Linked DNA regions of Homo sapiens. The protein of the gene in region 1 interacts with the protein of each later gene in a pairwise test. Each region holds a gene or a part of one and is shown on either strand. Other genes may lie near its edges.

Region 1 (5,286 bases):
AAAGTCAGTCAAGTTGGATGACAACAACATGCATAGCAGGTGTTAAGGTCTAGCCGAGCTTAGACTCTGCCCCAGCCGCAGCACCGCAGAGACCCCTCAGTGAGGAGTGGCACTGCTAGCTCATGTCTGGGGGCACCACACAGATGTCACACCAGCCAGGCTGGATTATACAAGAATCCTTCTATCCAAAGGAGTTCCTGCTCACTTAGCTGAGAAAGCTTTGAAAGGAGCCAATAGAAAAGCAAGTAATGAACTGACACTCTAACCCAGGAATGAGTCAAAAGCCAAGGGTGAGAACCATGTCCCTATGTATGGATCAGGCTTATCCCAAAATGCACCAGAGAGGGAAAATTATTTTAACATGGTGTCAAAGTTTACCAGTTTCTTTACCCGTTTTTTGGGCCAGGAGCGGTGGCTCATGCCTGTAATCCCAGCACTTTGGGAGGCCGAGGCGGGTGGATCACTTGAGGTCAGGAGTTCAAGACCAGCCTGGCCAACACGGTAAAACCCTGTCTCTACTAAAAATACAAAAATTAGCCGGGTATGGTGGTGCGTGCCTGTAATCCCAGCTACTTGGGAGGCTGGGGTAGGACAATCGCTTGAATCCGGGAGGAGGAGGTTGCAGTGAGCAGAGATTGTACCACTAGACTCCAGCCTGGGTGACAGAGTGAGACTCCGTCTCAAAAAATAAACAAAGTTTACCCATTTCCTTCCATATTTGGTCAATGTGCGAACAAGAATTATCAGTGATTCCAGGGTTGACTGATAAAGTCTAACTTACACAGGTAAAGACAATATGGCTTTTTGGAGAAAAACATCTTTTCAAAGAAAAGCATCATCTGAAAATGGTTTACAGGTATAAGACTGAGACTATGAAAAAAAAAAAAAGAAAGCAAGAGTACAAACTACACTAAGATTTGAACTTAAATATACAGATGTTATCTTTCATAGGATAAAAAAATCTTGCTATGCTCTTCAGGGAGGATAATTTTGTATTCCAGATTCCCCAACCTGCTCAAGATCAACATCTGACACACATCTGTTATTATAAGACTGTCCACACATTATTTTCTTTTGACCAACCAGTAATGAAAATAAGGGTCATTTAAACATGGGATATTTAAAGTAAGTATAATCCTATCCTTTTATGCGTTCACTGTGTGAAAACCAGACAGTGCACTTGCTTCACTGAACTTTCTAGACTCCTCTCCCTCCTTTTGTCCAAGAGGCCCCTGCTCATCTAGCTGAGACATCTTTGGTAATTGTGCCAAGCTGCAGAGCCGTGTCCTAACATATGGCAAACTTGCCAACGGCTACCAGAATGAAACATTATTAGTGTTTTGATTTGTGACTTTAATCTGGGTTTCTCAAAACAAGCCTGGAGGAAAACTGTGCAAAATTATTCTATTATCTTGTTGTTGTTAAATGATAAAGCTTATTCACAGTTGTTTCAAAGATTAGAAGAGTCATCACGACAGCTCTCACCATTAGTTTATTTAATCTAATTGATTAATTAGATTTATTTATTTATTTATTGATAGCACTCACTCTTGGCCCTCCCTTTGCAATTTCAGGCCCTCTCTTGATAATTCATCATTTAGAGAATCACTTAATGCTATAATTTCCTAATTGCAAACATCTTTAGTAGGTTATTTGGTTGTAAAAATTTATTTATGCCCATAAAATATAAATTGGTGATTAGATTTTCTTTTTCATTCATTCGTTGCTCTGAAACTTTTTGGCTCTGCTTTAATTAAAGTTTTATTAAGTATTAAATGAGGCTGCATTTACACAATAGCTTTAAGAGATGCCGAAAACTCACCCATTTAACTTCTTTGACCCTGATTTTAATACTTTGAATGTGTCTTTACTTTTTTCCTACTCTTACTGGTTTTAATCCAGTAACTGTATAATAAATCAATGCTGCCGGGCGTGGTGTCTCACGCCTGTAATCCCAGCACTTTGGGAGGCTGAGGCGGGTGGATCACAAGGTCAAGAGTTCAAGACCAGCCTGGCCAACATGGTGAAACCCCGTCTCTACTCAAAATACAAAAATTAGTCAGGCGTGGTGGCGCACGCCTGTAATCCCAGCTACTCAGGAGGCTGAGCCAGAAGAATAGCTCAAACTTGGGAGGCGGCAGTTGTGGTGAGCCGAGTTCGCACCACTGCACTCCAGCCTGGGTGACAGAGCGAGACTCTGTCTCAAAAAAAAAAAAAAAAAAATCAATGTCATACATTAAGAGGAATATTGAAGAGAATTTTCAAATTAACTTAGGGAATTAAAAATTGAGGAATGGGAATTATATATTAGTAAAAACAGTTAAGATGATTTCTAACTGAGAAAATCTTAAGATGCTATGATTAAATACTTATTGGATCAAAGGTTCTGATTTGCAATGACATTTTTTCCTTTGTCAGGTGTTCCAGTGCTGGCTACCTCACCCTTGATGTTTTTCATTCCAACAGTCCTACTAAAAGTCTCCCCTAAACCAAACCTTCTAGGGGTTTCATGAGCACTGTGGGGCTCCAAAGCTGAGGATGGCAGAACTCTGAAAGGCAAATGACTGACAGTCGTCACTAGACCCATGTTTTCTAAGAGGAGCAGGTGAAGCAAAAAAGGAATCCAGCAAACAAAGCCACAAGTGAAGAAAACAGAAAAAAAATATTGAAGATAACAAAAGAAAAGACGTGGAAAAAAACGTAAAGAAGCTAACAGAAAAGAGAAGCACAGAAAGAAAGAAGGGAAAATGGAATAAAAGGGTTTTCATGGCTGGGCGCGGTGGCTCACTCCTGTAATCCCAGCACTTTGGGAGGCCAAGGAGGGCAGATCACAAGGTTAGGAGTTCGAGACCAGCCTGGCCGACATGGTGAAACCCTGTCTCTACTAAAAATACAAAAATTAGCTGGGCATTGGCGTGTGCCTGTAATCCCAGCTACTCAGGAGGCTAAGGCAGGAGAATCACTTGAACCCCGGGGGTGGAGGCTGCAGTGAGCCACGACTGTGCCATTGCACTCCAGCCTGGGCAACAGAGCAAGATCCTGTCTCAAAAAAAAAAAAGGTTTTCATGGTGGTGAAGACAAAAAAAAGAAAATGTAAATGTAAATGAAGAAAGACGGCAATAAAAAGGAAAGTGAAGAAAAAGGAAGAAGACAAATTTAAAAATCAAATATGGGAGAAAGCAGGAAGAGGAGACCTGGGGAGGAAGGTTCTCATATCCCTGCCCATCTCCACCTTCTCGACTCTCTCCCCTCTCCAGTCTAGGTCCATGCGAGAAACAGGACGGTCCCTTCTTTTTAACCATCCACGTAAAACTCCTGCCCAAAATTGGTGATGATTATGGTTTCTTATTATCCCTGTCACTGAGTTACGAGTCAGAGTCAAGAACAGGAACAAAGCATAAATATGAGGTCCCAATTAAATAATTAAATAATTTTCTGGCTAGGCATGGTGGCTCATGCCTGCAATTCCTGCACTTTGGGAGGCCAAGGTGGGAGGACTGCTTGAGGCCAAGAGTTGGAGACCAGCCTGGGCAACATAGTGAGATTCCATCTCTATAAAAAATTAGCCTGGCATGATGGTGTGCGCCTGCAGTCCTAGCTCCTATGAAGGCTGCGGCAGGAAGATGGCTTGAACCTGAGTTCAAGGCTGCAGTGAGCCATGACCACACCACTGCCCTCTAGCTTGGGTAACAGAGCAAGACCCTGTCTTAAATAAATACCTAAATAAATAGATAAATAAATAGTAAATAATTTTCCAAAAGGAGTGTGCCTCAAGGCCCCTAAGTGTTAAGGTTCAGCAAAGTATACTCAAATGTTAGTAACAATCAAAGCATACAATGCAAATGCTCATCATGAAGTAGGTATGGTGAGCAGTTCAAGCCAGCAGTGGGCCTCAGTGAGATCTTCACTTTCCCCCATGTCTAGCACATCCTTTTAGGCTCTCTAATATCCCTGGCAGGAGAGAACATGCAGTTTTTTTTTTTTTTTTTTGAGACAGCGTCTGGCTCTGTCGCCCAGGCTGGGGTGCAGTGGCGCGATCTCGGCTCACTGCAAGCTCCGCCTCCTGGGTTCACGCCATTCTCCTGCCTCAGCCTCTCAGGTAGCTGGCACTACAGGAGCCCGCCACCGCTCCCGGCTAATTTTTTGTATTTTTAGTAGAGACGGCGTTTCACTGTGTTAGCCAGGATGGTCTCGATCTCCTGACCTCATGATCCACCCGCCTCGGCCTCCCAAAGTGCTGGGATTACAGGCGTGAGCCACCACGCCCGGCCGAGAACATGCAGTTTATCATGAGAATGGGTCTCGACCAATTCCAGCAGCAGCAGCAACACACACATTGGTTTGTATGTCTGTATATATGAGAGAGAGCAATGAGACTGAGACAGAGAGGGAGACAGTGAAAGAGAAAGTGGGAGAGAGAGGGAGAGAAAATAGAAGGATGAAGAAAGAGCTAAGAAAGGAAAACGAGACAGGGAGAGACAGGGGAGAAGGACTGATACTGGAGGCAGTGGTTGCAAATGCTTCGTCCTGCCACTCTGCACCAAACCAGGGGAGTCACGACTGTGTTCATGCTGGTAGGACCACAGCACCCATGTCACACCAACATGACAAGGTGTCCCTTCATTCATCTAAGTGGCCCAACACTGAGGTAAGGGTAGGTAGAACGACTTTCCCAGTCCCCATCCATCAGCCCAGATACAATAACACCTCCGTTATTTCCCACCGCCATCCATCAGCCCGGATAAAATAACGCCTCGCTCTCCCCCTAACCCAGACTCCATGGCGGCTGCAGTCATACCTTTCATGTACAGAAAGCTGTGGAAATACGGCAGAGTGACACAGCTGTACACAGAGTCACGCCGGTATGAAAGCTCATCATCTGTATCAAACCTGGAATCAAAGTCCTCTTCACTATCTTCAAACTGGACCGAGAGAGAGAAGCCAACGGTGAGGGAAAAGGCCACAAAGCAAGCCACGAAGATACCCAGCATGTATCATCATTGAAAAAATACAAAAATACAGCTACTCAAGAGGCTGAGGCAGCAGAATCACTCGAACCCAGGAGGCAGTGACTGCACTGAGCAGAGATCGTGCCACTGCACTCCAGCCTGGGCAACAGAGCAAGCCTCAGTCTCAAAAAAAAAAAAAAAAAAAAAGGGAAAAGGAAAAAGAAAAAAAACAACTGACAAGCAATACGCCTGATTTACGGTAGCACACAAATAATTCGGAATTAAAAATACCAACTTTTAAGGTCAAATGGTCAGTTGAATTGATACATGAAAGACA
Region 2 (5,286 bases), on another chromosome or scaffold:
AAAACAAGCCTATTTGGAGATTTCAAGCAAGACTGGGTCCTAAGGATTAGTTCACTAACCTACTCAGAAGGCTGACACTGCCTGCTACCTAGAGTCTGCAATAATGCCTTGAAATGTTATTAGCAGGGCTTCCCCCTCCCAGAGGCCACAGCCTTTACTGGGCCCAGGTCCTTCCTTTCAAGTCTCTCTCATCACAAAGGCCCTCTCACCCCTTCAATTCCAAAGGCACTGGATATCCCTCAGCCTCTCAGCCCCTCAACCTCTCGATGTGCCTTCAGGTACTCTGCTTTCCCCTTGCTAACCCTTAGCTAACTCACCCTTTCTACCTCTGCTGACATAGAATTCCCTCCCTCCCCACAAAAACCTGCCCTCCCCCAAAAACAAATTTTGTCCCCTACTGTACACGAAACCCTGTACTTCTCCTTGGCAGCACCTTGCCAGGTTTGCTTAAAGGGCTTCCTTCTTGATGGACTGTAAGCTCCATGAAGGCAGGGACCACTCTGAGATTACCTACTATAACCCTAGCCCAAATATTTCAATACCCCAACAATACCCCAACCTGACTTTCCAACTTCACCTCCCTCCCCAAGTACTTCAGCCTCCAGCCATACCCCTCAAGGTTCCAAAATCGCCATGCTTTTACTACCACTGCTCTATAAAAAACCCAGGTCACCTCTCAAGGCTCTGCTAAAGGCCAACTGCCCCAGGAAATCTTTCCCAATCTCCCAGCAATACACATGCCTCTCACCTTCACCCTGGTGGAAATAATCAAGCAAGAGAGCCACAAGGACCTACCTTCTAATCAGATTCCCACTAACTAGGGGAGTGAGCTTGGACAAGTCATTAAGCTGGAGCCTCATTGCCCAGATAATAAATTTGAACTCCTGGAAAGGATAATGTAAACCACCTAACGGAACCTGGCATATAGTATGCCCAGAGCTCTCGCCCACCATCCCGCTACACCCTAATTAATGATTTGTTGCTAAGTCATCTGTCTTGCCCTTAGACTGTGTACCCCTGGGGGGCATTTCCTTATGTAGGCTCCACCACCCCTAGTCCTCTGAAGTGAAATCAGCCTCGTAAAACAGCAACAACAGCATCACCTAACACAAACTGAATGATCAGTGTTTAGTGTGTATGTTTAGATAGTGCTTAATTCCTAGTATGTACAGGCAATCCCATTTTTTTTTCTTCATCTTAAAGTTCAGGGGTCCATGTGCAGGATCAATGAATCCCATTTTTAATATACCCATGCAGAACACACATGCAATAAAATATATACATACACACATGCATCTCAAAATTCTTAGTGTAATTTTAAGCTTTAAAAACAACAAAATTATAAAAGCAACAGACTTAACATCATCTGGAAGTTCAATTATTTAAATTTCTTTTACACTCAGTTGATCAATTTTGAATGCAAAAGTTTTGATTTCACATCTTTTAGTCCCTCTCATTAGAAATGAAAAATGCTAAAATTCCCCAAACAGAATCTGGGGAAATTTCAGAAGTTACGTTCACTTTAGCTACTAGAGGAATGTTTTCATTTTCTTTCTATGGCAAAGTGTTCAATCTGGAGGCAGTAACCAGTGGATTCTAGGCCTGTAGCTCTCCCAACCCTGAGTGCTGTGCAGGTGGCTGGCAGCAGTGGCTGCTATCAAATTTTGTCTCTCTTTTGTAAACTGCACCACACAAGAGCCATCTTCTGCCTTGGCTTGCTTCTCACCAACACAGAACTGTTCTCCATGGTGTGGAGGAGACATAAAGTATTTCAGGAACTGTACTACCTTCTTACTGCCGACAGTCACAGACAGGTACAACCAATATAAATGAGCTCTTCATCCTGTCCTTTAACCACCCAAATGCAGTGTTAAAACATTCTTCTGGTCCTTCCACCATCCTGTACCTGCAGGATGCTTGTATAGATTACCCCACCTACTCGAATCTCTGTTAGTTCTGTTATTTCATGTCAGGTGACCTTTAAAAGCTTGAAAATCTGTGTCATGCATTAGCTCTCCTGGGTGAAAGCTGCTTATGTTCCAGTCTGCCAGAAGCATGGTTCTCAGTAAGCTAGGCTATTCTTCAACTGCCACGCTCTCAACAAATTTCAGATAATATTGGAGATTAACAAATGCAAAAAGACTTGCAGATGACTTATAAATTATAAAGCCACTCCAAAAATGCTTTTGTTAGCTAAGATTTTCAAACCGTACAGTACTTAATGTTTGGAATAACTCATCAAAAAGGCTGAAATTGTGCTCACTAGAATGATCAACAACCCGAGGAGACAAAAAACAACTCAATAAAAACTTAATGAATTTATTTCCTATCAGTCTTGTCAGGTTGCATTTTGAATTCTATCCACAGCATGTGATGAAAGTACCCAAACCATAATGTAATCTTATGTACTACATCAAGGATCTAGTCAGCATAATTTTCTGGGATCTGGTGTGAAAGCACACTCCTTTGTGTCTACAATCCTTCCGCAGGAAGGGCCTTTCCCCAACGCAATCAATCAATCAATCCATCAATCAATCATCAGTCCAGAAAAGCCTAATTGCTCACCCATCACCAGTTCTGATTATAATTAGTGTTCTATAATCATGGAGCAGGAAGCACAAGATGGGAAAGGAGGGGGGCCACCGAGGTCCTCCGAGGCACTTGGTAATCACGATCAGCCGTTTTATACCAATAGCCTAGAAGCCAAACACACAACTGCTCGCTCTGGTTAAATTCTGTTAAACCAGTACTAATAAGAATGGAAGTACAAAGCTTGAAACAATGATTTCTTATCCTAAAAACAGATTCTGCATGAGCAGAAAAGCAGGGATAAGCAGAGTGAAGTGTTTGAGAGTGAGAAGCATTATGCGGATGGCTAGAAAGAAAACCTCAATCGAGAATGACTCGCAATAGCCTTAAACCTGCTGCTGAAAATGCCCCCTGATGCATATTTATTAGGTCTGTCATCCAAGAGGCTTGTATGCCACAGTATTTCCAGCCATCATTAATAGGCATTAATGACCACAGCCTTTCAACGCCACTGTGGCGCACTGCAATGCAGCTCCGAGCAGCTGGTGGAATCAGAACAGATGGCCTGCTTCCCTTCAAGGCAGGACTTTCTGCAGGTGACAACATGACTGCTAGGTGACTGACAAAAAGAAAAACAAACAAAAGTTGAAACTGGAATATCTGATGTCAGTAAAGCACATGTTTAGTTTCTCAGGGAAACTTTGACTTGGGCCCTAAAGGTTGGTAGGATTGTTTACAAAACTGCAGTTGTGCTACAGAAGCAGAGTGCTCCTTCCAAGTCCAGAAACATTCACTAAGCCCTGGCCACATCTCCATGTGGGGTGGCAAACTAGGGTGTGCCACAGAAATCCATTTCTCCAAGAGGCTCAGTGAGTACCTAACATGCACCAGAAAGGGAAGCCCAGCATTCCAAGGAGGGGGGAAGTCAAGGTTCCTACCCTCAAGGGGCAATACGCTCTGGTGGAATTCAATGGCCACTCTGGGCACATGGCAAGCAGCACAGAGGGCAGAACCACGTTTTTGTCCAGGGATACTTAACTATCTGCCCTTGTATTTGTTTACACTTCTATTTTTCCCTTCAGTAAATTGCTTATATACGTTGCCTCTTAACGGGATACTTGGAATCTTCTGATTGAAAGAGCAGAACCCACTCAAGGTGGCTTAAACAGAAAAAAAAGTAAGTAAAAACCGAAAGAAGTGGGGACTCTCAAAGGACACAGGACTATTTTCTCGGAAAAGCTTTTCCTGATTATTTTGTCCAAAAGGATCCCCCACTACCTTATCCCTAGCATTTCACCCTGCCAATTCACCCCCCCCCTGCCCACCCAATAACTCTCTTCCTCCTTATCCTGCTTTAGTTTCCTCCCAGCAGTCTCTGAAGTTCCATTTTTTATCTACTCCTTTGCTTGCTCACCTCTCTCAAAAAAAGGTAAGCTCCAAGCAGGCAGGAAGGGCAGCTGTCTGTCTTGTTTGCTGGTGTAGCCCAGGGCTGGGAGCAGTGCTGGTCCTCAGTCAGTATCTTGAGTCACTGAATGAATGGTCAATCACACGAAACTAGGTCTCAGGAGGTACCCGAACCAGGAACTAGAAGCAAGACAGCTGCCCTCTAGCTCACACTCCATTCTCTCTCTGCCTTGTTGGGCTGCAGCCTCAGTTTCTCCTTCCAACTCCACTGTGCCTTCCAACTCCACTCTGCAAAGAGCAGAGGGCTTTCTTCACTCCCATCTCATACTAGCAAAACCCTGAGACAGTCTCCTGTGCTCTTAGGGTAAAGTCCAAACCCCTTCCAATATCTTATAAGCCCTTCATGATATCCCCCCATCATCATCCCTCACAATGTTTCATTCAATCATTCTTTCCTAGCCATAAAGAGTGTTTCTCTGTTCCTCAAAGTAGCTGCACGTTTTCATCTCTAGGTTGCAGAATACTCCAAACCTTCTTCGGAAAGCACTCCTTCCCTCTTATCTCCATCGTGGTCATCCCCATCTCATCCTGGCACATGGCTAGGGGACCCTGCTAACACATCCACCATCCCAGCCTTCAGGTCTTCCAGCTAGGCTGTCAGTGCTGCAGCAGCAGGGACCATGACTGTCTTGTTCATCTGCGTATCCCTTAGTGCAATCCACAGCATCTGACAAGTGGCAGATGCTCAAATATTTGGGGAATAAATAAATGAACCATGTATCAGTAACGGTTATTCACAAAGAGGCTGGGACAAAAATAAGAGAGCAGTTCACCAGGAAAAGGAATGTGTCTGCCTTGTCCTAGCTGTATTCCTCATGCCTGGAAGAGTAGACAGCCAATAAATATTTGCTGAATGCATACATTCCTGGCTTGCCTGATGTAACTCCACCCCTTTCTCTCCCACTTGAGAAAACACATCAGAATGCAAAAGGGTGAAAAATGACATTATTAACATGACATATCTGAATCATTTGAAAGATCCACACTTTATTACTTGTCATAAATTACTGGCCACATACCCTCAAGACTGATCATCACATATGAGGTACTTGAGACAGTGGTTGAGAACAGGTGATTTAGACAAAGCTAAGAAATATGAAGCACTTTCTGCTCTTATTATTTTATTTTCCAGAAGATGAAGGTGACAATAAGCTCAGTAAGAACTAATAACTGAATTATTCTAACCTTTACTTTTCTTTTTATAAAATAGATTTCTGCACACCCCAGGAGAAACGTTTAATTAAATCAAAAGACATTATAAATTCCTTTTCACAGTTATTTTTCTCCCATACC

Evidence for each region. The genes of interacting proteins can lie anywhere in the genome.
Region 2: the proteins of MYO10 (region 1) and PELI2 interact in a two-hybrid assay, tested with the Homo sapiens proteins (one study listed by BioGRID).

The regions. Positions count from the first base shown.
Region 1 is NC_000005.10:16,694,652-16,699,937, forward strand, and holds part of MYO10 (unconventional myosin-X), read right to left. Parts: intron 4,923-5,286; coding exon 4,799-4,922; intron 1-4,798. UniProt on the Homo sapiens protein: Myosins are actin-based motor molecules with ATPase activity. Unconventional myosins serve in intracellular movements. MYO10 binds to actin filaments and actin bundles and functions as a plus end-directed motor.
Region 2 is NC_000014.9:56,123,978-56,129,263, reverse strand, and holds part of PELI2 (E3 ubiquitin-protein ligase pellino homolog 2), read right to left. Parts: intron 1-5,286. UniProt on the Homo sapiens protein: E3 ubiquitin ligase catalyzing the covalent attachment of ubiquitin moieties onto substrate proteins. Involved in the TLR and IL-1 signaling pathways via interaction with the complex containing IRAK kinases and TRAF6.